Linked DNA regions of Homo sapiens. The protein of the gene in region 1 binds, or shares a complex with, the protein of each later gene. Each region holds a gene or a part of one and is shown on either strand. Other genes may lie near its edges.

Region 1 (7,024 bases):
ACGTGGAGTGTGGATAAGGTGCTATTGAAGAAATGTAAATTAATTAAACTGCTGACTTGTACATTTTTCTGATTCCAAATTGAGATTTTTTTTTTTTGAAAATGCTATACAGCAGTAGCAACCTGGAATATTAAAAATATGTTGCCCAAAGTACATTGTATATCATAGTTATTTCTGAAGGAGATGTAATCACTTGTTCAAAATCATGTTTTTTTATAAGAACGCTTTATGGTTTAATAATAGCATGCATTTTTTTCTTTTGGCCTGCAGGGTTTTTTTTTTTTTTGTTTTGTTTTTTTTTGCAGAGAAAAGTATTTATAAAGAATTTACCTAGATACTCTCATTAGTTAGATTGAAATAAGAGATTAAGTTCTGTACCGTGGTAATACCCACCCAGTTTCCATTACCTTGAGGTGTTCATTATGGCTTACCAAAAGTTGATTGTGCAATCAATCAGACACTTTAAGATTTCTGCTAGTCTTTTACTTATTTTCTGATTTTTTACTGCACGGAATCAAATTTCTTAAATTAATTTTTCAGCATCCATTCCCTTTTCCTAACGTGTGAAAAATGCCATTGTGTATATATGATATGGGTCATTGTATAAGTTTCTTATTCTAACTGCTGTGAGATTTGTAGCTGCTGCATTAAGTGCATGCCTGCCTGTGCCTTTCTGACTCAAAACTATTTTCTTATGCTGTCCATCACATTTCTGGGTGACTTTTTATATATTCACTCAGTTAATCATTCAGTTAAAAGTGTGTTAAATCTGCCTTTTTGAAAAGTGTAACAGTGCACCCTATGGTATGTGAACTCATTCTTGTGAGAAGACATAATTTCTGGATGTTAAGTAGACATTTATTTTTCTCTATTGAGTTAATATGGAGAAAGTGATTTTGTGCCCTTTAACTAGATTTAAATATGTGCTCTTTGATATGAGGGAGTGATCTCTAGTTCTTAGATATGTATGCTCCACTTTCATGTTTTATTTGCTTAGAATCTTCCTGACTATGGATAATTGGGTGATAATCTCAAATTCTTGCTGAATTGAGACACTAGTACACCCATTAGTACATAATTCCTATTGAAGACCATTAGTTCTATATTTGAAGCTTTTAAGGTAATCTATTGTTGACCTACTTTCTTTTTGTCTTAAGGGATTTTTTTGCAGAATGGGAAGGTAGTTGTAAATGTAGAAAGTCTGAATTTTTTTTTTTTTTGCGCTAGAACAAAATAGGGTGGACTATAAAATGGAAATTAGGAAAAGGGAATGATTTCTCTAATTTTCAAAGTGCCAAAATACACAAGGTATTTTTTTGTACCAGTTCATTGTGATTTTATAATTTATGTTTAAAGCATTTTTTTCCATGATGGTTCATTTTCTTTCTTTTTATTTTTTATTTTTTTGAGACGGAGTTTCGCCTTGTTGCTCAGGCTGGAGTGCAAAGGTGCCATCTCAGTTCACTGCAACCTCTGCCTCCCAGGTTCTAGCGATTCTCCTCCCTCAGCCTCCGGAATACCTGGGATTACAGGCATGTGCCACCACGCCCGGCTAATTTTGTATTTTTAGTAGAGACGGGGTTTCTCCATATTGGTCAGGCTGGTCTCAAACTCCCGACCTCAGGTGATCCACCTGCCTCAGCCTCCCAAAGTGCTGGGATTACAGGCATGAGCCACTACGCCTGGCTATCATTTTCTGTAATGAAAATATTTACAATTTGTTAATGTATGTTTTCGGTTTAGCATTTTGTTGTTAGTAGCACATGGTGTTACAGTATTTATATATTTTTAATAGCAATAATTGCCACCCGGTAATAGTTGCCATATTAACCTCCAATTGCTAGTAAATATTTTTAAGTACATAATAGACAGCAATTTAAGGCATAGTGTAGCAGTTTACTGGACTGTTTTAAAGAGCCATTTGTATGTGTGATGAGTTCATAATTTTAAAGAGACAATAATGTACCTTAGGCCTGTATGCTACAAATATTTTGCTGTGGATGTTGCTTGAAGTACTCACTGGGAAGAAGTTAGGTAGGGCCTATTCTTTGTGAGAAGAATGGGCAAGGGGGTGTGTTTAGGATAGTATGTATTTATTGAATTTATGCCAGGTGCTTATATAGCTTATCATTTTTTTTTTTTGTTTTGGTTTTTTTTTGAGACCAGAGTCCCACTGTGTCACCCAGGCTGGTGAAGTCTTGGCTCACTGCAACATTCAGCTCCCGGGTTCAAGGGATTCTCTTGCCTCAGCCTCCCAGGAGCTGGGATTACAGGCGCCTGCCACCATGCCTGTCTAATTTATTTGTGTTTTTAATAGAAATGGGGTTTCGCCATGTTGGTCAGGCTGCTCTGGAACTCCTGACCTTGTGATCCGCCTGCCTCGGCCTCCCAAAGTGCTGGGATTACAGGCATGAGCCACTGCGCCCGGCCAGCCTGGTTTTTAATTGTATTCCTTACCACTTTCAGAGATCTCTCTCACCAGTTTGTACTAGTGCTATAAATTGTGATAACTAAGTTAATTTTGTTCTATAATTATTTTTGCCTAATAATTTAAAATTGAGATGAAACTCATCTCAATGAAAATATGTAAATATTACTATTTACATATTTATAGAGAAACAGACAACAGAAAAATTGTTTATTTTTTATGAACAGTTAATTCAGCTGTCTCTCAACTTTGAATCAAAGATAGAGTAGATTTTTTTTGAAACATTCGACTTATTTTTGATTGAAGAAAATAACAATAATAACAATGTTCCCCTTCTTTAAGCTAGTAGTAGGAGTACTGATTTGTGTGTGTGTGTGTTTTTTTTGAAAGTGAATGATACATTTATTTCACAGGAGCTAACCAGTTAGCCAGATTAGACAGATTTTATGAGAATTAGTAGTATGGTTGACTATTAGGTATTACTGTTATTGAACTGTGCATTGCAACCGTAGAAATGAAGAAAAAAATACATGCAACATTGTTATTAGTGTCATTTATTTCAGATGTATTTTGTGCAGATCTGATTTACAAACTGTTGTGTGATGTTGGCCACCAGAATTTCTGTTTTGTCATAACGTTTCTTTTTTTTTTTTTTTTGAGACGGAGTCTGGCTCTGTGGCCCAGGCTGGAGTGCAGTGGCGCGATCGCGGCTCACTGCAAGCTCCGCCTCCCGGGTTCGTGCCATTCTCCTGCCTCAGCCTCCCGGGTTCACGCCATTCTCCTGCCTCAGCCTCCCGAGTAGCTGGGACTACAGGCGCCTGCCACCATGTCTGGCTAATTTTTTTTTTGTATGTTTAGTACAGATGGGGTTTCACCATGTTAGCCAGGATGGTCTCGATCTCCTGACCTCGTGATCCTCCCGCCTCGGCCTCCCAAAGTGCTGGGATTACAGGCGTGCCTGTCATAATAACATTTCTATTTTAAGAAATTATATTTAATGTATTTCAAAGTGAGGTAGTTGGGTAGCCTAAAAGTCTGTATAGTATTCTAGCGCACACACTCACACACACACACACACGTATTTGTTTCATAAGACTTGCTTAGAGTTTCAGAATTAGCGAATCAGTATTTGTATGTGTTCTTGGAATTTAGGACATTTTCCCCCCTCTTGAGTCATTTAACTTCTTTCTGAGCTTGTTCAGATAATTTTCTTTCTTTTTTTTTTTTTTTTTTTTTTTTTTTGAGACGGAGTCTCGCTCTGTCACCAGGCTGGAGTGCAGTGGTGCGAAGTCGCCTCGCTGCAACCTCCGCCTCCTGGGTTCAAGCGATTTTCCTGCCTCAGCCTCCCGAGTAGCTGGGACTACAGGCGCGCGCCACTATGCCCAGCTAATTTTTGTATTTTTTAGTAGAGATGGGGTTTCACCATGTTGGCCAGGATGGTCTCTATCTCTTGACCTTGTGATCCGCCCGCCTCGGCCTCCCAAAGTGCTGGGATTACAGGCTCGAGCCACCGCGCCCGGCTGATAATTTTCTTTTATAGTATATATACTTTCATTGTTTATTTGAAAGATTTAAAGGTGTTAGCTTTGTTCTGTTGGGGGAATTCACTTCATTACATAGGGGAGATGATATTTCATTAATCTTAGTAAATATTAACATAAACGAATTGTAAATTCAGACTCATTTGCATGAATGAAATATGTATGCTTGCCCAATTTTTGTTTAGTATGAAGTCATGTACATCAGCGTTTTCTGTCTTTGCTTTAGTTGATAGAAAAATAGTTTAAAATTCGTGTTCCTTTACTCCCTTGTTTTATTACTGAACTTTAAGATTATCTAGCTGGGCGTGGTGGCTCAAGCCTGTAATCCCATCACTTTGCGGGGAGGCCAAGGCAGGCGGATCACGAGGTCAGGAGATTGAGACCATCCTGGCCAACATGGTGAAACCCCGTCTCTACTAAAAATAGAAAATAATTAGCTGGGTGTGGTGGTGCGCGTCTGTAGTCCCAGCTACTTGGGAGGCTGAGGCAGGGGAATCGCTTGATTCCAGGAGGCAGAGGTTTCAGTGAGCCGAGATGGTGCCACTGCACTCCAGTCTGGCGACAGAGCGAGAGTCTGTCTCAAAAAAAAAAAAAAATTATCTGTGGTATAGAATAGATTTTATCCTCACATATTAGCTGTAATAATCCTCCTTTAGGAACTCCTGTTTTTCTTGCATTTATATTAGCATGTTTTGGTTATCTTTGTTGGAGTAGAGTTGTCCTCCTTTTTTTAAGTTAATAAAGTGCTTTTTAGAATATATTTTGATTCTAGTTTGAAAAAAAAAAAGAAAACTGCCTTGTATTTTTTCATTGACTTCTTTCTAGATGACAGGAGAGTCAGTTGTGTCCAAGGCAAAATGTTATTTCATTGGCATTTCCATACTCTGGTTTACTATGTATATTTCTCAGTGTTTATTTCTCATTCTAGATGAATTGTGGTGTAGAATCTAATTAAAACTGTATTTCTACTACTTTGAAATAGCGCAGAGCCTTGGCTGACAGCTTTCTACATTTTGTACTATTTTTCAGTATAGTAAAACTCCATTACTGTTTTTCTTTTTTGTCTGTTTTGTTTTGTTTTGTTTTTGAGACAGTCTCCCTGTGTCACTAAGGCTGGAGTGCAGTGGGCTCAAGCAGTCCTCCCACCGCAGCCTCCCCAAATGTTGGGATTATTGGCATGAGCCGCTGCTCCCTGCCTCCATTACTGTTAAAGGATCCTCTTGAGTTGAGTGCATCAAAATTTCATTAGTGTCTTTTTTTTTTTTTTTTTTTTTTGCATAGTTTAAATTTGTGGCTTTAACTTTAAAAGTAGATTGGGGGGGCGGGGAGGAGGGAGAGCATCAGGAAGAATAGTTAATGGATGCTGGGCTTAATACCTAGATGATAGGCCGGGTGCGGTGCTCAGGCCTGTAATCCCAGCTCTTTGGGAGGCCGAGGCTGGCTGATCATGAGGTCAGGAGATTGAGACCATCCTGGCCAACTTGGTGAAACCCCGTCTCTACTGAAAATACAAAAAGTAGCTGGGCGTGGTGGTGTGTGCCTGTAATCCCAGCCACTTGGGAGGCTGAGACAGGAGAATCGCTTGAACTAGGGAGTTGGAGGTTGCGGTGAGCCGAGATTGTGCCACTGCACTCCAGCCTGATGACAGAACGAGACTGTCTCAAACAAAACAAAACAAAAACAACCAAAAAACCTAGGTGATGGGTTAATCTGTGCAGCGAGTCACCATGGCACATGTTTACCTATGTAACAAAACCTGCACATGTACCCCAGAACTTAAAATAAAAGTTGATGGGGAAAAAAAATTGATAGGAGAAGATAAAGCAGGAAAATATTTAAGTCTTCATTAGATCTTTTTACTTAATAATTCTTAATTTGTATTAAGTCACTGAGTTGAATGTATTTAAGACATTTGATATTAAAATTAAATTGGAGTGACAGACTTGTTTCAAATAAAATATGTAATTGTAAACAAGTTTTATGGTGGGGAGTAGAAATTTCAAAAATTGGTAATCTAAAAGGATATTAAACTGAATAAGAATTATTGTGATCTTTTCTTCTCCCTTAAAAAACATTTGACAAATTTATGAAGAAGTGTTTTTTTTTTTTTGCTGGGAGGAGGGGAGATAGGGTCTCACTATGTTGCTCAGGCGGTTTCAAACTCCTGGCCTCAAATGATCCTCCTGCCTTGGCCTCCCAAAGTACTGGGATTACAGGTGTGAGTATGAGGAAGTATTTTTGAGTATAATACAGGAGGCTTCCTCATTTCAATATTATTAAGAAGGATGATTAAATTTATCTGAACTTAATATGAGCACTAATAAGGTATTCAGAAGAGTATAATTGGTTTGACAAAAAACATTTTATGTTGACAATTCTGACTATTGAATTTTCATGCCCTAAAGAGAAATAAGGAAAAACATACATATATCTAACTGGAACATTTGGAACTAGCTCCTAGTATTTGTGCCTGCATGTAAGCCTGGCACAATGCTACTTAAGAAGTTCAAATGTTACCTCCTCTGACCACCACAGGCAGAACTAGTTACCCCCTACCTCCCTCTGTGTACCTCTGATCATCAGATGAGCTTCTGCAGGAGAGTGACCCTGTTGAAATCATCTTTGCTAGGTGCTCATTAACTATCTGTTAAGTGATGGAATTCCTGGACGATTATTCTCCATTCCTCAAGGGAGCTCTTATTGACCATTTGGGTCTTGATCACAAGTATGCTGTTTTTATTTCAGCTTATTTTGATGATTAACTCTGTGTTCTGAATATATTTTATCTAGACTGTATGTACTGTGGCTTGGTAATATTTTAGATGAATTCTAGAATTTCCTTATTAAAGACAATTCCAACTGATCATGAGACATGTTCTTACTCCTCAAAGGAATAAGAATTCATTTAGTGTTTAGATTTTCTGTAGCATAGTAGGCAACCTATAGATTTTTGAGCCTTCTGGGGATTTTGTTTGGGGGCTTGATCCAGAATTCCTTTACTTTCATTCTTTAAGCTGTATAGCAGTGCTTTTGTTCAACATTCAAAAGATTGTTT
Region 2 (7,872 bases), on another chromosome or scaffold:
ATACTGGAAGACAGATGTCATGTCCACCCTTCGTAAGTCTTTTCTAATTAAACATTCCCCAATTCCTAAACCATTCTCCTAACAGTAAATCTGATTCATTGCATACCTACAATATACAGTATATACCAGGCACTGCCAAAGGCCTAAGAAGTTAAATAAACTGCCTAGACCCACACAAGCAGTTGCCAGAATTATAGATCTGTCTGACTGTAAAGCCACACCTTCAAATCTAGATCCTATAGCAGTACTGTCTAACAGAAATATGTGAGTCACATATATACTTTTAAATATTCTAGGCCAGGCATGGGGGCTCACACCAGCAATCTGGGAGGCCCAGGTAGTAGGATCACTTGAGGACAGGAGTTTGAGACCAGCCTGGCCAACATGGTGAAACCTGGTCTACTTAAAGAAAAAAAAAAAAATCAGGCGGGCATGGTGGCATGCATCTGTAGTTCCAGCTACTCAGGAGGCTAAGACATGAGAATTGCTTGAGTCTGGGAAACAGAGGTTGCAGTGAGCCCAGATTGTGCCACTGCACTCCAGCCTGGAAGACAGAGCAAGACTTCTGTCTCCAAATAAATAAAAATATAAATAAATAAATATTCTAGTAGCACCCTGTAAAAATAAGCTGGGCTCAGTGGCTTACACCTGTAATCCCAGCACTTTGGGAGGCTGAGGCAGGTGGATCACCTGAGGTCAGGAGTTCAAGACCAGCCTGGCCAACATGGTAAAACTCTGTCTCTACTAAAAAATAGAAAAATTAGCCAGATGTGGTGGCGGGCGCCTGTAGTCCTAGCGACTGGGGAGGCTGAGGAAGGAGAATTGCTTAAACCTGGGAGGTAGAAGTTGCAGTGAGCCAAGATCACGCTACTGCACTCCAGCCTGGACGACAGAGCAGGACTCCGTCTCAAAACAAAACAAAACAAAACAAATAAATAAAAATAAATAAACAAGTTAAATTAAATGTAATAAAATATTTTTATTTAACCCCAGTATCCAAAATATTATCATTTCAGCAAGTACTCTATATAAAAAAATATTGACTTGGTGTTGTGGCTCACACCTATGATCCCAGCACTTTAGGAGGCCTAGGCAGCAGAATTTCTTGAGCCCAGGAGTTGGAGACCAGCCTGGTCAATATAGTGAGACCCTGTCTCTACAAAAAAAGGAAAGAAAAAAAGGCTGGGGCTGGGCACGGTGGCTCACGCCTGTAATCTCAGGACTTTGGGAGGCCGAGGCAGGCAGATCACCTGAGGTCAGGGGTTCAAGACCAGCTTGGCCAACATGGTGAATCCCATCTCTACTAAAACTACAAAAATTAGCCAGGCGTGGTGGCTCACGCCTGTAATCCCAGCTACTCAGGAGGCTGAGGCACAAGAATCACTTGAAACTAGGAGGCGAAGGTTGCAGTGAGCCAAGATGGCGCCACTGCATTCCAGCCTGGGTGACAGAGTGAGACTGTTTAAAATATATATATATATATATATTTATGTGTAGATATACATTTTTATATATGTATATATATGTGTATATATGTGTATATATGTGTGTGTATATATATATATGTGTGTGTGTATATGTGTATATATATATGATTCCTCACTTCAAGATGTTTACAATCTATCCAGGGAGATAAGCCATGCACAAAATACATTCACAGATCCAGTGACTCCCCCGAAAAATGAAAAAAATAATTTTGAAAAAATGAATTTAAAAAAGAGTGAAAACAATAAAATAGAATGCACCTGTAATCCAGCTACTTGGGAGGCTGAGGCAGGAGAATAGCTTGAACCCAGGAGGCGGAGGTTGCAGTGAGCCAAGATCGCGCCACTGTACTCCAGCCTGGGCAACAGAGCAAGACTCTGCCTCAAAAAAAAAAAAAAAAAAAGGCCGGGCGCGGTGGCTCATGCCTGTAATCCCAGCACTTTCGGAGGCCGAGGCGGGTGGATCACGAGGTCAGGAGATCGAGACCATCCTGGCTAACACGGTGAAACCCCATCTCTACTTAAAATACAAAAAATTAGCTGGGCGTAGTGGCAGGCGCCTGTAGTCCCAGCTACTCAGGAGGCTAAGGCAGGAGAATGGCGTGAACCCGGAAAGTGGAGTGAGCCGAGATTGCGCCACTGCACTCTAGCCCGGGCGACACAGCGAGACTCCATCTCAAAAAAAAAAAAAAAAAAAGCTAATAACTACTGCTTATTAAATGCCTACACGCCAGGCATGATGGCTCATGCCTGTAATCCCAGCACTTTACGAGGTCAAGATGGGAGGATGGCTTGAGGCCAGGAGTTTGAGACCAGCCTGGGTCTCACATAGTGAGACTCCGTCTCTAAAAAAATTAATAAAATTAAATAAAAATAAAAGAAAATAAAAATATTAAGTGCTTACAATAAGCCAAGCACTATGTTAAATGCTTTATAACCATCTCATTTGATTTTGGCAAACTCCTTTGAAAGTACTATTATTATCTCTATTTTACAAAAAAAGGAAGCTGAGGCTCAGGGAGGGGAAGTGAATGCCCATGGTTGCACAGCTGGGTAGTGGCAAAGTACAGGGGTGGGCCCCATCCTAAGCTCTAGGCATCATATCCTTATCAGAGAAACCCATCCCTGTAATCTCCAGGCCTCCTTCAGGTATTATCATATTGTTTACCCATTTTCTGTCTATCTCCCCTACCTTTTTAAAAAAATTTACCCTTCTTTAAAATACCAGCTAAAATCTGGGTAAACCCTATGGTGCCTCAAATGACCTGTAATTCACTGGACTTTCTATGCTGCAATTAGTGTCTGTATAGGAAAAGAGAGGCCAAAGAAGTTCACAGCCTCCTCTAATCATTACAGCACTTGAGAGCTGGTCACTCTGCCCAATCTTGTGAATCACCAGGTTGATCAGGAGGCACATCCTAAACCCTAGGGCATACGCAATCCTTGTCAATCTTCTTTTCCTACTTAGTACACTCTTTCACGATGATCTCATTCAATGTCATGGCTTTTAGCTACCATCTATGAGGCTATGGTTTTGAAATCTCTATCTGTAGCCCATTTCTCTCCCCTGAACTTTGCCATTTGGGTGTCCCACAGACACCTGATGCTCAGTGGGTCTACATATGAACTCATCTTTCCTGTCTCACCCACACTGCTCTGTGTTTCCTAGCTTAGAGAAAAAAAGTGCTACGATAGCCACCCAAGACATCTGTGACTCCTTCATCTCTGTCTTTACCTCTGGTTAGTCATTAAAGAATTATTTTCCATATATATATAGAGGACAGAGTCTTGCTCTGTAGCCCAGGCTGGAGAGCAGTGGTGCAATTTCAGCTCACTACAACCTCTGCCTCCTGGGTTCAAGCAATTTTGGTCTCTTGACCACCTGAGCCACCTGAGTAGCTGGGACTACAGGCGTGTGCCACCACACCCGGCTAATTTCCTCTTTTTACTTTTTTTTTTGAGCCGGAGTCTTGCTCTGTCGCCCAGGCTAAAGTGCAGTGGTGCGATCTCGGCTCACTGCCAGCTCTGTCTCCCAGGTTCACACCATTCTCCTGACTCAGCCTCCCAAGTAGCTGGGACTACAGGCGCCCGCCACTACGCCCAGCTAATTTTCTGTATTTTTAGTAGAGACAGGGTTTCACCGTTAGCCAGGATGGTCTCGATCTCCTGACCTCGTGATCCACCCCCCTCGGCCTCCCAAAGTGCTGGGATTACAGGCGTGAGCCACCGCGCCTGTCCTCTTTTTACATTTTTAAAATCTTTTTCTGACATTTGTTTCTCAGCTGGAGTTGTACCAAAGCGCCTAACTGGTCGTTTTTCTTTAATTTTTTTCCAGACAGGATCTCCCTCTGTTGCACAGGCTGGAGTGCAGTGGCGCTATCTCAGCTCACTGCAACCTCTGCCTCCTGGACTCAAGCAATCCTCCCACCTCAGCCTCCCAAGTAGCTGGGACTGCAGGTGCGAGCCACTACGTTCAGCTAATTTTTTGTATTTTTTGTAGACACAGGGTTTCACCATGTTGTTCAGGCTGGTCTTGAATTCCTGAACTCAAGCCATCTGCCCGCCTTGGCCTCCCAAAGTGCTGGGATTACAGGCCTGAGCCACCGTGTCCGGCCTGGTCTTTTTTCTCTAGGCTCTCTCCTTTCCCAAACTTTTCTCCATGTTGTAGCCAGGGTTCTTTTAAAGCTCACATGTATTCTTTGGTATGGCACTGCAGAGTACTCCTGGATCTGGACCTACTCCTTTTCCAGACTCTTTTTTTTTTTTGAGACAGAGTCTCTCTCTGTAGCCCAGGCTACAATGCAGTGGCGCGATCTCGGTTCGCTGCAACTTCCGCCTCCCGCGTTCAAGCGATTCTCCCACCTCAGCCTCCCTAGTAGCTGGGATTACAGGCGCGCGTCACCATGCCCGGCTAATTTTTGTATTTTTAATGGAGACGGAGTTTTACCATCTTGGCCAGGCTGGTCTCGAACTCCTGACCTCAAGTGATCCGCCTGCCTCGGCCTCCCAAAGTGCTGGGGTTACAGGCGTGAGCCACCGCGCCCAACCCCTCAGTTCTTTTTTCTTTTGAAACCCACTATAATCTCTGTAAGTCCTATCAGTTCCAAGAGACTTTCTACACAAATACATCTCCAGGTTGTCAAACCTAAAAAGATTTTCCTAGAGCATGGCCTATGACGTCAAGGATCCAGGTAGCGCCCGGAGGAAAGCGCCAAAGGAGGCCGCCATCTTTCATACAGCAGCCCGGAATTTTGCGCATGCGCCTCTGATTGTCTGTCCGCAATGAAGCTCTTCGGCCTTCTCGGCACCCATACGTTTGGGAACGGCAGTTTCGAGGTTTGTGAGACGTCGGCTTCCGACCGGAAGTGAGAAGAGGAGGAAGTTGGCTGGTTGCACCGATCTGGGGGCTTCCCGGGCTCGGGTAACCGGAGTGCTGGTATCTAATCGTCGCTCAAAAGCTCCTAGGTGCGCGGGTGGATATAATTCCCGGCTTCTCGAGAAGACACTACAGCCTCAAGGAGGTGTGCTTCTAGTGTTTAATTGGATACGTGTTATGGATGCCGGCTTAGAAGGACCTATATACCATCATCTTAAAATAACTTCCCCTTGGCTCTCTCTCTCTTTTTTTTTTTTTTTTTTTTTTTGAGACGGAGTTTCGCTCTTGTTGCCCAGGCTGGAGTGCAATGGCGCGATCTCGGCTCACCGCAACCTCGCCTTCCGGGTTCAAGCGATTCTCCTGCCTCAGCCTCCTGAGGAGCTGGGATTACAGGCGCTCGCCACCAGGCCTGGCTAATTTTTTGTATTTTTAGTAGAGTCGGGGTTTCTTCATGTTGGTCAGGCTGGTCTCGAACTCCCAACCTCCAGTTGATCCGCCGGCCTCGGCCTCCCAAAGTACTGAGATTACAGGCGTGAGCCACCGCGCCCGGCCTTGGCTCTCTTTAAAAGGCATTTTTAGGCTAGCCGCAGTGTGGTCTCCCGCCTGTAGTAGTCCCAGCTACTCGGCTTGAGCCCAGGAGTTCGAGGTTATAGTGAGCTAGGAACTCCCCACTGCACTGCAGCCTGGGCTACAGAGCGAGATCCTGTCACCAAAAAAGAAAAGCGTACGGGGGAAGGCATTTTCAGAGAGATAGAACGCCTAGATGTTAGTTTGGTCCAAACTCTGCTACCAACTTGCTGTGTGTATCCTTCTGTCCCTCTCCAAGTCTCAATATCCTCATCTATAAAACGAAGGTCCCTTAAGTCACTTTTTCAGTTCTTCTGAATTTTGTTGCCTCTTTATTATCTCGTTTGAGCCACATAGCCTTGGGAGTTAAAAATCACTGGCCTTTGGCCGGGCACGGTGGCTCACACCTGTAATGCCAGCACTTTGGGAGGCCGGATCACCTGAGTATCACCTGAGGCCAGGAGTTCGAGGCCAACCTGGCCAACATGACGAAACCCCGTCTCTACTAAAAATACAAAAAAAATTAGCTGGGCTTGGTTGCGGGCGCCTGTAATCCCAGCTACTCGGGAGGCTGAGACAGGAGAATCGCTTGAACCTGGGAGGCAGAGGCTGCAGTGAACAGAGATTGCGCCATTGCACTCCAGCCTGGGCGACAAGAGTGAAACTCCGTCTCAAAAAAAAAAAAAAAAAAAAATCACTGGCCTCATTTTATAAGGAAGACATTGAGTCCCAGGGTGAGGGGTTATAGATAGGACTTTCTCAAGATTGCACAGGTAATGTGGAGGTTTCAGAACTTGAGACTAGAAGGTAATGCTGTAACTCCATGACCAGATCTCCTTTCTATATTTCTGTGTCATCAGTTCCTGGAACTGGCCATATAAGGAAATACTCAAACGTTTTTGAATGAATGAATCTTTGATTTGAAGGCCAGTGCCACAACAGATCTGGTCTCTCTCCACCACTTTGATGTATAAACAAGTGAACTCTTTTCCAGGTATATCCCGTGCCTTACCTGACTGGGGGCTCTGAGTCCAGTTGTGTTGTCTTCAACTTAGACACCATGGAGGCACCTCCAGTCACCATGATGCCTGTCACTGGGGGCACCATTAACATGATGGAGTACCTGTTGCAGGGTAAGTGAACTAGGGAACTTGGATTACCTGTTTTCCTCTTCTCTGTTCAGCTTCCCTTAAGATGAGAGACTTAACACAAAAGCAGCCTGCACAGTTTCTGGCACCCAGCTATGTTTTTAACTGTTACTTTAAATTATAGTTTTATATGCACTAAACATACTAAATTTGCCATCTTGGCTGGGCATGGTGGCTCACGCGTATAATCCCAGCACTTTGGGAGGCCGAGGTGGGCGGATCACGAGGTCAGGAGATGGAGACCATCCTGGCTAACACAGTGAAACCCTGTCTCTACTAAAAATACAAAAGAAATTAGCCCGGCGTGGTGGCGGGCACCTGTAGTCCCAGCTACTCAGGAGGCTGAGGCAGGAGAATGGTGTGAACCTGGGAGGCAGAGGTTGCAGTGAGCCGAGATCGCGCCACTGCACTCCAGCCTGGGCGACAGAGTGAGACTCTGTCTCAAAAAAAAAAAAAAATTGCCATCTTAACATATTTAAGTGTACAGTTCTGTATTGTTAAGTATATTAACATTGTTAAACAACAGATCTTTAGAACTTTGGTTTATTGTGAGTAGCTTGAAAAAATACTTAGTACAACTTTTTATTTCTTTGAGACAGAGTCTCAATCTGTCACCCAGGCTGGAACGCAGTGGCACAATAACAGCTCACTGCAACCTCTATCTACTTCCCGGGTTCGAGGGATTCTTGTGTCTCAGCCCCCCTAAATAGCTGGGATTGCAGGCGTGCATCACCACGCCCAGCTAATTTTTGTATTTTTAGTAGAGAGTTGTGGTTTCATCACGTTGGCCAAACTGATCTTGAACTCTTGCCCTCAAGTGATATACTTGCCTTGGCCTCCCAAAGTGCTAGGATTACAGGTATGAGCTGCCGCGCCTGGCCTAAAATACTTAAGTTTTTCATCCTATAAAACTGCAACTCTATACCCATTAAACACTAATTACCACTCCCCTCTATGCCAAACCCTTAGCAACTATCTTTCTAGGTCCTGTTTCTCTGATTTTTTTTTTTTAAGATGGATTCTCACTCCGTTGCCCAGGCTGGAGCACAGTGGTGCAATCTTGGCTTACTGCAGCCTCTGCCTCCCAGATTCAAGCGATTCTTCTGTCTCAGCCTCCTGAGTAGCGGGATTACAGGTGTGCACCACCATGGCCAGCTAATTTTTGTATTTTTAATAGAGACAGGGTTTTTCCATGTTGGCCGGGCTGGTCTTGAACTCCTGACCTCAGGTGATCCACCTGCCTCAGCCTCCCAGAGAGCTGGGATTACAGGCGTGAGCCACCGCGCCCAGCCAGATT
Region 3 (7,024 bases), on another chromosome or scaffold:
AAACATAAAGCATCAGCAGTGGTGAAACATTGAGATAATTAGGGTGCCTATTTAAGATTTTACCAATATGCTAGTCAATACAGTTGATACAAAGGAGATATAGAAAGAATGACAAAACAGGGACAAAATTATCAATACGTGGAAATAAAATTAATGAGAAAACTCAGTTAATTGAGAAGTTATTAGAAATAATAAAGGTTTAGGAAGGTGACCAGTTATAAAATGCAAAAATAAAAGCTTTTTAAAAATGGATAGAGAAGTATAATTTACATTAGCAACAGAAAATATACAGAGGGAAAAATATAAAGAAATATACAGAACCTGTAGGAAGAAAACTTTAAAAGTCCATAGTGGCACATACAGATTTTAATAGAGTTTGAATTCTTGGTAAGATGTCATTTCTCCCCATATTGATCTTTAAATGTAATGTAATCACAAAATTTGAATGGATATTCTTTTTTAGGACTCGACATAATGCTTCTAAAGTTTAGGTCTTAGAATAATTGTGATAGAATAGTCAGAAATTTTCAGAAGAATAGAAGGGAGTATTTTTCATATCACCTATTAATTACTTAATTTTCTATGTTTTAAAGTAGCACAGCATATGAAGAAGAAAAAAATAGGAAATTATAAAGAAGATCCAAGTATAATGATAGAATTATAAATCAGGAAATACCTTAGCACATTTGGATAAGCATTTGACAACATATTTAGCTGGATCCCTGCTTTATACTCTGTACCAAAATAAATTCCAGATGGATCATAAATTGAAGGAAAAAAGCTCTTAAGGGTATTAGAAAATATGGGTGAATTGTTTTTTATCGTTTTGAATCAGGAAAGGCCTTGCTATGCCTGACAAACATGAAAGTAAAAGGTAGATTTAAGTAAGTGATTCAGATTTCTGTATTACAAATAAATACTGAGAGATATTTAAACTTGGGAGAAATTTTGCACTTATTTGACAAACAAATGATTTATTATTTATACTATACAAATTTTAGATCAGAAGAATCTCTTAATCATTAAAAAAATCGGTAATCCCATTAGAAAAATGGTCATATTAGAATTAACATTGTACAAAAGAAGAACTGTATTTGACCAATAAAGACATGGAAAGATGTTTAACCTCAAAAGTAAACTACAGGGAAAAGAAACAGTGACATACTACTTTGCCTTTAAGTTACAAAGTATTTAAAAGTGGCAGTAACCCATAGGAATTTTTTTTTTTTTTTTTTTTTTGACAGAGTCTCACTCTGTACCCCAGGCTGGAGTGCAGTGGTATGATCTCAACTCAGTGCAACTTCCACCTCCCGGGTTCAAGCAGTTCTCCTGTCTCCGCCTCCCAGGTAGCTGGGACTACAGGCGCACGCCACCACGTCCAGCTAATTTTTGTAATTTTAGTAGAGATGGAGTTTCACCATATTGGTCAGGCTGGTCTCAAACTCCTGACCTCAGGTGATCCACCCACCTCGGCCTCCCAGAGTGCTAAAATTACAGGCATGAGCCACCGCGCCCGGCCAGGATTAAATATTATAAGATTCACTCATGAACTGTTAATACAAATGGAAATTGGTATAATGTTTTTGGAGGGTAAACTGACAATGTGTATCAATAAGTTACCAGCAACACTAACCCATTAATCCTACTTCTGGGAAGTTATTTCAAATATATTATTAATCAAATATGCAAGGAGAATTACAAAGATATTCATTAAGAAGAATATCATTCAGGAAAATAGTAGGAAGAGAGTTTTTTTTTATACCAGCTATTAATTACTTAATTTTCTGTGTCTAAAATAGCACAGCATGTGAACAAGAAAAAAATAGGAAATTATAAAGAAGATCCAAGTATAATGATAGAATTATAAATTAGGAAATACCTCCATGCATTTGGATAAGCATTTGACAAAATTTTAGCTGGATCCCTACTTTGTACCAAAATAAATTCCAGATGGATCATAAATTGAAGGAAAAAAGCCCTTAAGGGTATCAGAAAATATGGGTGAAAAATGACGACCTGTATTTCCATCAGTAGAGATTGGCTAAATAATGATCCATCCATAAAGCTGTATAAAAGAATGCTGAATAACAAGTTCATTGACATAAGACTTCAAATACATATTGAATGACAAACACAGGTTCAAGATAGTTTTTTCTTTGAGTCATGTCAATTTCATATCTGGTTAAAAATAGCACACTTGACTAGGCAAGAGGAGGAGGCTATCAGTGTAACACATTCTGAGGCAGTTTTTAATATAATTAGATTTGTGAAGTAAGGAAATTAAATGCCATAGTTACCCATGAACAGCTGGAAAACTATATACTTCCTCAAATCTAAGCCACCATCAATTGGTGCCAAATAATTCCACCATTATCTTATATCACTAAGAAAGAATAAACATGCTGCCAATTAAAACACGAAGGCATCACAGATTGTAAGACATATCTTGATATCAGAGCCAGAATCAATGAAATACAAGCTAGTAACAGACTAAGGAGGAAGAAGGAAAAGATTAGAGCAGAATTTTTTCAGGACGTATTTACATTTATTAGTGAGATAATTCTTATTAGTCACGTTTCAAGAAATGTGAGAAATAATTGTCTTTAAGGTTACTTTTTGCACTTTGTACTTCTCAGAATATGAACAATGTGTTCAATCTTAGAGTGTTTCCTCTGACCTTGCTTGTTGATTTTCTGTAACATGTCTTTTCTAGTTTGCAATGGATTTTGGATAAACAAGATCTGTTGAAGGAGCGCCAAAAGGATTTAAAGTTTCTCTCAGAGGAAGAATATTGGAAGTTACAAATATTTTTTACAAATGGTAAACTTTTTTAAAAATTGGTTCAAATTGTATAGTTGGTTACCTCTGAATAAAAATGTTTTTGTGTGGTAATTTGTGAACTGTTTTAGTGCATACCTAACATTTTTGCTTATACAGGTATTCTTTTTACAACATATTCATTTATCTTTCTTTTTAGTGATCCAAATAAAGTTTTTTTGTGTGAATTTTACATATCACAGGCACTCAAGACAATTTGAAAGTGTTACCTAATCTCCCTAAGACTTTATAATAATTATTAGACCCAGTTCAAGGTTGGCTAAAGCAAAGTACTTTGAGGATAAATGATTCTTTGGATTGACATCCTATAGTGGTCGTTTCTCTTAGAACTTTGCTTTGAAGGGAAGAAGATGTAGGGATAGATCTTTACTCTGACATGTAGTAGGTTTGTCACATAATTTTTTTAACTTTCGGTTCACTATTTTGTAAACTTATCTTTTTTTTGAGGATTCGTTATGGATTTTTATGTATTATTTATTTATTTTGGTGAGCTGTATAAAGCTAAGTGTGGTGGCTCACACCTGTAATCTTAGCACTTTGGGAGGCAGAGGTGGGCAGATCACTTGAGGCCAGGAATTTGAGATGAGCCTGGCCAACATGGTGAAATTCCCTCTCTACTAAAAATACAAAAATTAGCTGGGCGTGGTGAGGCACAAGAATCACTTGAACCTGGGAGGTGGAGATTACAGTGAGCCAAGATCGTGCTACTGCATTCCAGCCTGGGCGACAGAACGAGACTCTGTCTCAAAACAACAAAAAAAGTGGTAGTATTAACAAGTTTCATAGGTGTCTAATATTTTCTTTTTATATTTATTATAAAGATACTATGAAAAGCATTAAAAATATTTAGAAGATAGAGGGGAAATATTTATTCAACTTCCTTAATGGATGAATAATTTTTTCCTGTGGGGCAATTTCTGTTTTGTTGTTGTTTTGTTGTTGTTTATGCATACCTATATATTTCTTAACACATTTGCAAATCCTAGAATTAGACCACTGTGACTCACATAGAGCATGTGTAGGTTTTTTCCTTTGTTAAAAATGAACATAATTATGATTTAACCACATGGAAGTTACTGTTCAATGTTAATATTATAATGATACCAGAAGATACATTTAAAATTTCATTATTTGCCTTTTAGTTATCCAAGCATTAGGTGAACATCTTAAATTAAGACAACAAGTTATTGCCACTGCTACGGTATATTTCAAGAGATTCTATGCCAGGTAGGATTGTTTTTATTTTATTTATTTGAACTCTTATCTAATGTTGATGAACCTTAGCACAGTGTAAATGAATCATGTGTCTACCATAGAGTTATCTTGATTTTTTTCCCAGTGTGTTTTCTGTATGAATGATATTTAACTTTGTTTTATCATATTTTAGGTATTCTCTGAAAAGTATAGATCCTGTATTAATGGCTCCTACATGTGTGTTTTTGGCATCCAAAGTAGAGGTATAAAACAATTTTCTGTTCTTCATCAAAGTGTAGTCAATGTATGTTGGTTAATCTGCCCCAGTTTTCACATGGCCTATGTAAAATTAATAAATGGTAATTTATGCAAAATACTAAAATTGTACAAAATCAAAGAAATATATACATATCCTTATATATTCACTTAACAGACACATACAGCACTTACTGTGTACCAACTGACTTAATCTTTGTAACAAACTGGAATACATAGTAGTAGTATTCCCATTTTATAAATGAGGAAACTGAGACAGAGATGAAGAACTTGCTTAAGATGATATAGCTAGTAAGTGTGAGAGCCCGTGTTTGAACCATGGGAGTCTCGTTACCAATCCTGTGTTCTTAACTACTTTCCTCTGCTGCCTTTGAGACATCTATTGTTTGGCACTGAGTAGTATTCAGTAAGTACCACAGCTTGCCTACCATAACCTGAGAATGTCCCTTATGCTTCTCACCCATATGCTTATCTTCTCCTGTCTTCCCTCCCATCATCCTGATGATTGGCTGCCTACCAAGCCAGAAGGAAGGCAAGGATTAGGGGAAGCTATAGCTATATAGAGTCTAACAAGTAAAAGTTGAGGTTGTGAGCGTAGAGAAATTAGGTAAGGGAGAGAAGATAGATAGGAACTTGCGGCAGAGACTGAATTTCTGTTCAACTGTTTTACCTTTGTAGTATTTTTGAAAGAGCTCAGCTAAAGTCCAGAAAATAATAGCAGATATTGGCTGTTTTTCATAAATAATGTAGTCTTTGGTGGTGTGAAATCTTTGCATTATGTTTCTATTTTTGGATAATGTCTTAGAGTTCTATTCTTAGAGTTGTATTCTTGAATATTGAATGTGATTTTTACCTAGTAAGTTTACATTCCTTTTGGCACCCACTTTGATTTAGTTTTGTTTTAGCCATGATTTAAGGTTATCCATGACATCTTTCCCAACTGTTACCTAAATAATGACAATTGACTCTGTTAGAAATAATATTAAGACAAGCTTTCTAGAAGTTTATGTTTTCTAATTGTGAGTGGTAGTTTAAGAAGGCAGAATCAGTTAAGGTCCTTATTATGGATTGAGTTTTCTAATTCTAATAATTCTATGTAATATTTGATTTTATTTAAATATTACCATGTAATAATTTAAAGTCTCTTAAGCACAGGCAGTATGGAGGACCAAGACAAAAAATCTTTATAAACATTTAATCTTGTAGATTAATTTGAGGATTTTAATCTATCTTACTTGTTAAATATTGTTATGTGATTTACTGAGTAGAACTCTGTGATGTGATTTACTGAATGAAAGTTTTCCCTTTGAGTTTTGGATAAAGAATTATTCCTAGGCCGGGTGTAGTGGCTCACACCTGTAATCCCAGCACTTTGGGAGGCTCAGGCGGGTGGATCACCTGAGGTCAGGAGTTTGAGACCAGCCTAACCAACATGGCAAAACCCCGTCTCTACTAAAAATACAAAAATTAGCCGGATGTGGTGGCAGATGCCTGTAATCCCAGCTACTAGGGAGGCCGAAGCATGAGAATTGCTTGAACCCATGAGGTGGAGGTTGCAGTGAGCCAAGACTATGCCACTGTACTCCAGCCTGGGTGACAGAGCAAGATTGCATCTCAAAAAAAAAAAAAAAAAGAATTATTCCTGAGAAAGAGAATGTAGTCTTTCAGATTTGGTCGTAGCATTATTATTATTTTTTTTTTATCTCTGTGACCAAATCTTTCTGTATTTTCTCTAGTTTTATGGAAATTGTATGGAAAGCTCATTTAAGAACATGTCTCAGGCTTTTACTTTTTCTTTTCAGTTATTATAGTTGGAGGTTTAAATGTAAAACAAATATATTAGTACACATACATTTCCCCTACACAGGATAAGGATGTAGGCTGAAGGTATTTAAATAGATTTTTAGTTTAGCTCCTTTTGTTGGATAAGAAACCAACTCTTGATTTTTTTATTTTAAAATGAAGTGAAGGCTTTAGAAATCTTACGAGGCAATAAATGAAACAGTATATATAAGGTGGATCATAATAAATTTTAGTATTTTCACAATGGTGGTTGTTCAGTTGAAAGAGGAAATGGGAACTGACTTTGGAAGTCTTACGTAATTCCTGTCTCCCTGTTCTAAAAAGGATAGTAACTATTTATATGGTTTTTTTTTTTTTTTAGTTCTTTTGGTGATTAATTAAGGTTTATCTTATTCACAAATTCAACTGTTTTACCATAGAATGGCATGAAGTATCTGTTAATACAGGTTGAATTGAATAGGAAACATACTTAATATTCTTGCAATTAAGTATAGAATGTAAACAATCTTCTTGGAAACTAATTTAAATGGAAAAACTGACACTGTAACCTTAAGGCTTGGTTTCTAATTTGGTACCTTTTATTGTTATTAAATTATAAAATTATTTTAAAATATGTCTTAAGTTGTAGCAATTTGGGGGAGAGGTAATACAGGCAGAATATCCGTAATCTGAAAATCCTAAATGCTCCAAAATTTGAAACGTTTTGAGGGCCAACATGACATTCAAAGGAATGCTCATTGGAACATTTTGCATTTCAGATTTTTAGATTAGGGATGCTCAACCAGTGTAATGCAAAATATTCCTAAATCAGAAAAATCTCTGATCCTAAGCATGTCAGATAAGGGGTAATCAGCCTGTACATTTAGGAGTGTAAGTACTTCACACCTCAAGTAGTTAGAAGGTGAACAGATTG
Region 4 (7,024 bases), on another chromosome or scaffold:
CCCCTGGGACCTGCACTCGATCCCCTCAGAGCACCACGAGGCCATCACCTGCCTGGAGTGGGACCAGTCAGGTGAGGCGCTGGTCCCACGTGGCCAGGGGTGGCGACCCGGATCCCGGAGCAGGGGGGCCCTGTGTTTCTCCGGTCAGTCTGGAGTCCGGCGCTGGGTCTAGAGCCCCTGGTCTGCAGCTTTGCACCTGCTGCTCTTTCCATAGTGGCCCGAATCATTCTTGTTCAGGGTGTCTCAGGGCATCTCTGGAGTGCGCCTTGTGCCACCTGCTGTGCCCTACCTGGGCCGAGACCTCTCCACTGGGCTGGCTTCCCCCAGGCGCTGTGCCGTCCTGCAACGCAGTGCTCTGCCCATCCCTGGAAGGTTCGCAATGATGGCTTCTTGCCCTCAGGCTCCCGGCTCCTGTCAGCAGATGCCGACGGGCAGATCAAGTGCTGGAGCATGGCGGACCACCTGGCTAATAGCTGGGAGAGCTCAGTGGGCAGCCTAGTGGAGGGGGACCCCATTGTGGCCCTGTCCTGGCTGCACAATGGTGTGAAACTGGCCCTGCACGTGGAGAAGGTGAGTGTCCTGCCCGAGTGAGCGGATGAGGCAGATGAGATGTCACCCTACCCAGCCACCCGCCAGCCCCTCTCCTCTCCATCACCAGCATCCCCTGGTTTTTTGGACCTTGCACTTGGCTCCCACCTGCAGTCCGGCTGTCATTAGCACCTGTGTGTTCAGTGGCCTCTCATTTAACTGAGGGTGGCTGTTCACTTGGCCCCCACCTGCAGTCTGGCTGTCATTGGCACCTGCGTGTTCAGTGGCCCCTCATTTAACTGAGGGTGGCCGTTCTTAGTGAGTTATCTCTTTCACTGGAGGCTACTGTCCTTAGGTAGCTGCATGTATAACTGGTGGCTGCTGTCTTCTGAATGCAGCCCACCCTCTGATTTAGTAACATCCCAGAGCCCCTCTCTATGCTCCCTGTGATTCGGCCCCACAGGTAAGAGTAGGCGTGGCCAGGGTTGGGGGGGACAGTTAAGATAGGCGTGGCCAGGGTTGGGGGGGACAGTTAAGAGTAGGCGTGGCCAGGGTTGGGGACAGTTAAGAAGTAGGCGTGGCCAGGGTTGGGGACAGTTAAGAGTAGGCGTGGCCAGGGTTGGGGGGGACAGTTAAGAGTAGGCGTGGCCAGGGTTGGGGGGGCACCTGGGTTCAGGCTCTGACTCCTCACCTCTGTGTGTCAGTTTCCTCACTGACGGCAGGGTCTCGGGGATGTTCGTGGCAAAGGCCTCACAGCCACCCCAGCTTCGTGCCTCTGTGCGTCTGCTTGTGCTGGGGCTCTCGCAGGAACTAGGAGGCCTTCCTGGAGGGATGCAGTGGACAAGATCTTTTCTCTCGTCCCTTCGTGAGTCCCTCCCCAGGGACTGCCATTGTCGGCGCATTGCCGCAGTACACGCAGCACCGGCTTCGTGCCACGGGGGCCCTCCGGGGTGCACTCCCCACCCTGCGGTCCCCGTTTGTCTGTATTTCCTGTTTTTGGTAACAGTTTTGTCGGGATGGAGTTCACAGACCTTAGAACTCACCCATTGAGAGTGTGCAGCCCACACGGTCCAGAGGTTTCGTATACACTCGCCATGTTGTGCGGCCACCACCATAGCTAACCTCAGACCTTTATCTTTTTTTTTTTTTTTTTTTGGAGACAGAGTCTCGCTCTATCCCCCAGGCTGGAGTGCAGTGATGCGATCTTGGCTCACAGCAACCTCTGCCTCCTGGGTTCAAGCGATTCTCCTGCCTCAGCTTCCTGAGTAGCTGGGATTACAGGCACCCACCACCACACCTGGCTAATTTTTGTAATTTTTTAGTAGAGACGGGGTTTCACCATGTTGGCCAGGCTGGTCTCGAACTTCTCACCTCAGGTGATCCGTCTGCCTCAGCCTCCCAAAGTGCTGGGATTAGAGGTGTGAGCCAACGAGCCCGGCCAGACCTTTATCTTTTTTGTTTGTTTGTTTGTTTTTTGAGACAGGGTCTTGCTCTGTTGCCCAGGCTGGAGTGTAGTGGCGCGATCTCGGCTCACTGCAGCCTCTCCCTCCCGGGCTCAAGCGATTCTACTGCCTCAGCCTCCTGAATAGCTGGGATTACAGGCGCCCGCCACCACGCCCGGCTGCTTTTTTGTATTTTTAGTAGGGACCGGGTTTCTCCATGTTGGTCAGGGTGGTCTCGAACTCCTAACCTCAGGTGATCTGCCTGTCTTGGCCTCCCAAAGTGCTGGGATGACAGGCGTGAGTCACTGTGCCCAGCTTCAGTCCCTTCTCATCACCCGAAAAGGAAACCCAGTCCCCATCCTGCATCACCCTGATCCATCCCCCACCCCAGCCCCCGAGACCCAGTTGTCTCTCTGGATCTGCCTGTCCTGGACATTCATAGAAACAGGATCACACACTGCGTAGCCTTCTGTGTCTGGCATCTCTTACTGAGCGTGATGTCCTCAAGGTGCATCCCCGCTGTGGCCTGAGTCAGAGCCTCGCTTTTTAAAATAACCAAATACATTTTTTTTGAGACAGAGTCTTGTTCTGTCAACCGGGCTGGAGTGCAGTGGTGCGATCTCGGCTCACTGAAACTTCCACCTCCCAGGTTCAAGTGATTCTCCTGCCTCAGCCTCCCGAGTAGCTGGAATTACAGGCACGCACCACCGCGCCCGGCTAATTTTTGTATTTTTAGTAGAGACGGGGTTTCACTATCTTGGCCAGGATGGTGTCGAACTCCTGACCTTGAGATCTGCCCGCCTCGGCCTCCCAAAGTGCTGAGATTACAGGCGTGAGCCACCGCGTCCGGCCAAATTTTTGTTTTTTAATTACATTAATAAAAGGCACATGTGCTCCTTTAACATAGTCTCAGACATGCCAGCCTGCGACCCACACAGACGTGTGGTGTGGACACCAGATGAGTCGTCGCCATGGCAACCCCTCACCACCAGGCCTGGCTTGCTTCCTGGACTTCTGGACCTGCTTCTTGCTATAAGAAGTGTTTTTTTTTAACTTGTAACTTAGAATGGAGCCGTACGATACGTATGATACACTTCTCTTCCTCGCATTTTTTCACAACGTAGAGACATTTTTCTTGTTCTTTTTTTTTTTGTTTTTGAGACAAAGTTTTGCTCTCGTTGCCCAGGCCAGAGTGTAATGGTGTGATCTCGGCTCACTGCAATCACCACCTCCTGGATTCCAGCAATTCTCCTGCCTCAGCCTCCTGAGTAGCTGGGATTATAGGCACCCGCTACCATGCCCGGCTAATTTTTTTGTATTTTTTATTAGCAACAGGCTTTTACTGTGTTGGCCAGGCTGGTCTTGAACTGCTGACCTCAGGGGATCCACCTGCCTCAGCCCCCCAAAGTGCTGGGATTATAGGCGAGAGCCACCGTGCGCAGCCAAGACCCCATCTTTTAAAAGACTCACGTTGAAAGAAGGGTGGATGTTTCCGTATGTCAATAATGACTTGACAAATTTGATTTGAAATCAAATAGTGCCCGCAGCAGCCGCTGGTGCTTACACAGCACTTCCTGAGTGCTATAGCTCAGGTCTGCACAGTGCGGCCCAGGGCCTGACGGCCCCCGCCTGGGTTTGTGAGTGTGGCTCATTGGCACCAGCTGCCTGTGTGCCGCCACGGCAGAGCCAGAGCCAAGTCGTTGCAACAGGGACCACCTGGCTCCCAGAACCGAGCATGCTGCTGTCTGTCCCTTTACAGAAAGGGGAGGTGACTCCCGTTGCGCACACGTTCACCCGTTTAATCCTCCCCACTGTCCTCTAAAGCAAAGGTGCCGTTCCTTCCACCTTACAGATGAGGAGACGGAGGGTCAGAGGGGATCACATCCCACACGGCTCAGGTGGCCGAGTCAGGATCTGAACCCAGGTGCACACACTCCTGGCTTCTGCGTGGTTCTTCTGTGCGCGTGTTTCTGGGGGTCATGGGGCAGCCCCCATGAGCCTGAGCGGCCCCTCCTCCCTCCCTCCCTTCTCCACAGTCGGGCGCCTCCAGCTTCGGGGAGAAGTTCTCCCGAGTCAAGTTCTCACCGTCGCTCACGCTGTTCGGCGGCAAGCCCATGGAGGGCTGGATCGCGGTGACGGTCAGCGGCCTGGTCACCGTGTCCCTGCTGAAGCCCAGCGGGCAGGTGCTGACGTCCACCGAGAGCCTGTGCCGGCTGCGCGGCCGCGTGGCCCTGGCCGACATCGCCTTCACCGGCGGCGGCAACATCGTGGTGGCCACGGCGGACGGCAGCAGCGCGTCGCCCGTGCAGTTCTACAAGGTGTGCGTGAGCGTGGTGAGCGAGAAGTGCCGTATCGACACGGAGATCCTGCCCTCCCTGTTCATGCGCTGCACCACCGACCTCAACCGCAAGGACAAGTTTCCCGCCATCACCCACCTCAAGTTCCTGGCCCGGGACATGTCGGAGCAGGTGAACGGGCGCAGGCCATCACGTGGGCTGGCAGGCTTGGAATGAAGCACTGCTTCTCAGGGTCCTGGGGGTGGAGACCCGCGCGGGCCTCCACGGGCTAAACCGTGGTGTGGGCAGGGCCGGTCCCTCCCGGGGGCTCCAGGGGAGAACCCATTTTCTGCCTTTCCCAGCATCTGGAGGCGCCCAATCCCTCGGTTCGGGGCGCCTTCCTCCCGCTTCGTGGCCACAGCGCAGCCTCTTCCTGTCTCTGAATCTCAACCTCCCACATTCTCTCCTGAGGACCCTGTGAGGACACTGGGGCCCCCGGACCCCCCCCAACGTGCTCTCCCGTCTCAGTGTCCCGAACCGAATCCCACCCGCAGGTCCCTTCTCTGTGAGAGGCGGCCCAGCCACCGGTCCTAGGGCTGAGGATGGGATGTTCTGGGGGCCACTGTTGAGCCGACCACACCAGGTCGCCTGGATTCCTGTTGTAATTAGGAATCAGTAACGCCCCAAACTCCTTGAAGCCCCTGACTTGGTTCCCTGTGTCCCTTTGCTGTCCCTGTGGGAGGGCACCATCCGGGGACATTTGCGTTCCTGTGAGTGGATGTTGGGCTCTGGGGACAGGCCTGGGCTGGAATCCAGGAGGGCCCGAGGGGCAGGCGTGGCTGAAGAGACAGGCCCAGCAGTGCGTGGCCCCAGGGTCCCGCAGCTCAGGCTCCGGTGGTGGCGTGGCCACCACAGCAGTGCCGGGTCAGCCCTCACCCCCACCTCCCCCGCAGGTGCTTTTGTGCGCGTCCAGCCAGACCAGCAGCATCGTGGAGTGCTGGTCCCTGCGCAAGGAGGGACTCCCCGTGAACAACATCTTCCAGCAGATCTCCCCCGTGGGTGAGTCTCCCGCCGGCTGCGGAGGCCCTGGGCCTGCCCTCGGGGGCGGTTGGTTTTTATTTTGGAGGCAGGTCTTGCTGTGTCACCCAGGGTGGTCCTGAACCCCGGCCCTAAGCGATCGTCTCGCCTCGATCTCCAGTAGTGCTAGGATCTCGGGTGTGACCGCGCGCCTGCCAGCATTCTGAGTGTGTTAGGCGTATAGACTCCTCCATCCTTCCACGCCCGCTGCGGCGGCTGCCACCATTCTGTGCGAGGCCGAGGCTGAGAGGTGTCGTTGCTCAGCCAGCGGGGACACCGTGAGGGGCTGCAGGCGTGTGGGCGGCTGTGGAGCGTGGGTCTGTGGGTGGGGCCGTCGGGCAGCAGGGGACAGGCCAGACCGGGCAGGGGCGGTGCACGGAATCCTCCGGAACCTGGTTCAGGGAGAGGAAGCCAAGGCTCAGCGGGTCAGCTGAGGCTGCTGAGAACACGCCCCCCACCCCACCCCACCTCTCCAGCAGCCTCTTCTGGGGCCCCCATTCCCATCTCTATCCGCCCGATGGGCCCCCCGCACCCACGGAGCCAAGCCCGTCATCCCCACCTCCGGCACAAAATCCTGGGGCTGGAGCGAAGCAGGGACGCCCGCCTGCTATGACCGGGGACCAGAACAGCCGCTTGGTTTTCAGAGCCTCGGAGGCTGCGGGCCTGGTTTTTAGGCTGGCCTCCGCTCTGGAGAAGGGAGATGTTTTCCCGGTAGATGAGAGCACAGGCATTTGCCGATTAGCGCTAATGGACCCTGGAGTGGCCAGACGTGGGGGCACGTGGGGCAGGTGGGGCAGGCGCTCCTCAGAAGCCACTAATGAGCACGTGTCAAGAGGCCCCGATGGCTCCCGGGGCCTGCAGGTGGTTATGTCAACTGCCCATTGTGGCCGCAGAGGCAGTAAAGGTGAAGAGGGCCACTGCCATTCCTTCCCCCAGGGCTTGTAGTGAGTCACCAGGCAGGTGAAGAGGGCTGCTGCCATTCCTTCTCCCAGGGCTCGTTCCTTCGCCCGGTCCCCAGGGCCTTGTTGGGCCTCATTCCTTCCCCTGGGCCTCGTGGTGAGTCACCAGGCAGTTTGGGCTGCGCTGGCTCCTGCAGCAGCACCTGGCGCCACCCCGTGTGGCTGCACAGACCTGCACCTTCACTGCCCGGTGCCCCCGCTGGGCACGTCTGTGTCTACCATCTGCCCACAGCCAAGCCACTGGGCAGTCCTGGGCTCCGACACTCCTCCTCGTCTCCTGCAGCCGTCCTCACCTGCTGGCCCAGCTGTTACCCGCCCGAGAGCCACGTCTCACACACATGCCACAGCCTTTCTCAGGTCTCACATCCCTGGCAGCTGGGGGTCACTGGGACAGTCCCCACCGCACCCATCTCTCCCCCATCTCTCCCCCTACCGCCCCACGTGCCCACCATGCCAGGCTTTGGTCCCCGCCATGCCCAGCTCTTCACGCACCGCCCCACGTGCCCACCGTGCCAGGCTTCGGTCCCCGCCATGCCCAGCTCTTCACCCACCACCCCACGTGCCCACCGTGCCAGGCTTCGGTCCCCGCCATGCCCAGCTCTTCACCCACCGCCCCACGTGCCCACCATGCCAGGCTTCGGTCCCCGCCATGCCCAGCTCTTCACGCACCGCCCCACGTGCCCACCATGCCAGGCTTCGGTTCCTACCATGCCCAGCTCTTCACCCACTGCCCCACATCCCC

Evidence for each region.
Region 2: MED13L (region 1) and MED18 share a complex: the UniProt entries of both Homo sapiens proteins name them as parts of the mediator complex.
Region 3: MED13L (region 1) and CCNC share a complex: the UniProt entries of both Homo sapiens proteins name them as parts of the mediator complex.
Region 4: MED13L (region 1) and MED16 share a complex: the UniProt entries of both Homo sapiens proteins name them as parts of the mediator complex.

The regions. Positions count from the first base shown.
Region 1 is NC_000012.12:116,267,687-116,274,710, reverse strand, and holds part of MED13L (mediator of RNA polymerase II transcription subunit 13-like), read left to right. Parts: intron 1-7,024. UniProt on the Homo sapiens protein: Component of the Mediator complex, a coactivator involved in the regulated transcription of nearly all RNA polymerase II-dependent genes.
Region 2 is NC_000001.11:28,324,176-28,332,047, forward strand, and holds the start of MED18 (mediator of RNA polymerase II transcription subunit 18), read left to right. Parts: upstream 1-4,864; 5' UTR 4,865-5,005; intron 5,006-6,110; exon of another isoform or gene 6,111-6,200; intron 6,201-6,421; 5' UTR 6,422-6,487; coding exon 6,488-6,560; intron 6,561-7,872. UniProt on the Homo sapiens protein: Component of the Mediator complex, a coactivator involved in the regulated transcription of nearly all RNA polymerase II-dependent genes.
Region 3 is NC_000006.12:99,558,638-99,565,661, reverse strand, and holds part of CCNC (cyclin-C), read left to right. Parts: intron 1-2,713; coding exon 2,714-2,820; intron 2,821-3,980; coding exon 3,981-4,065; intron 4,066-4,225; coding exon 4,226-4,295; intron 4,296-7,024. UniProt on the Homo sapiens protein: Component of the Mediator complex, a coactivator involved in regulated gene transcription of nearly all RNA polymerase II-dependent genes.
Region 4 is NC_000019.10:883,184-890,207, reverse strand, and holds part of MED16 (mediator of RNA polymerase II transcription subunit 16), read left to right. Parts: coding exon 1-71; intron 72-400; coding exon 401-570; intron 571-4,006; coding exon 4,007-4,438; intron 4,439-5,199; coding exon 5,200-5,305; intron 5,306-7,024. UniProt on the Homo sapiens protein: Component of the Mediator complex, a coactivator involved in the regulated transcription of nearly all RNA polymerase II-dependent genes.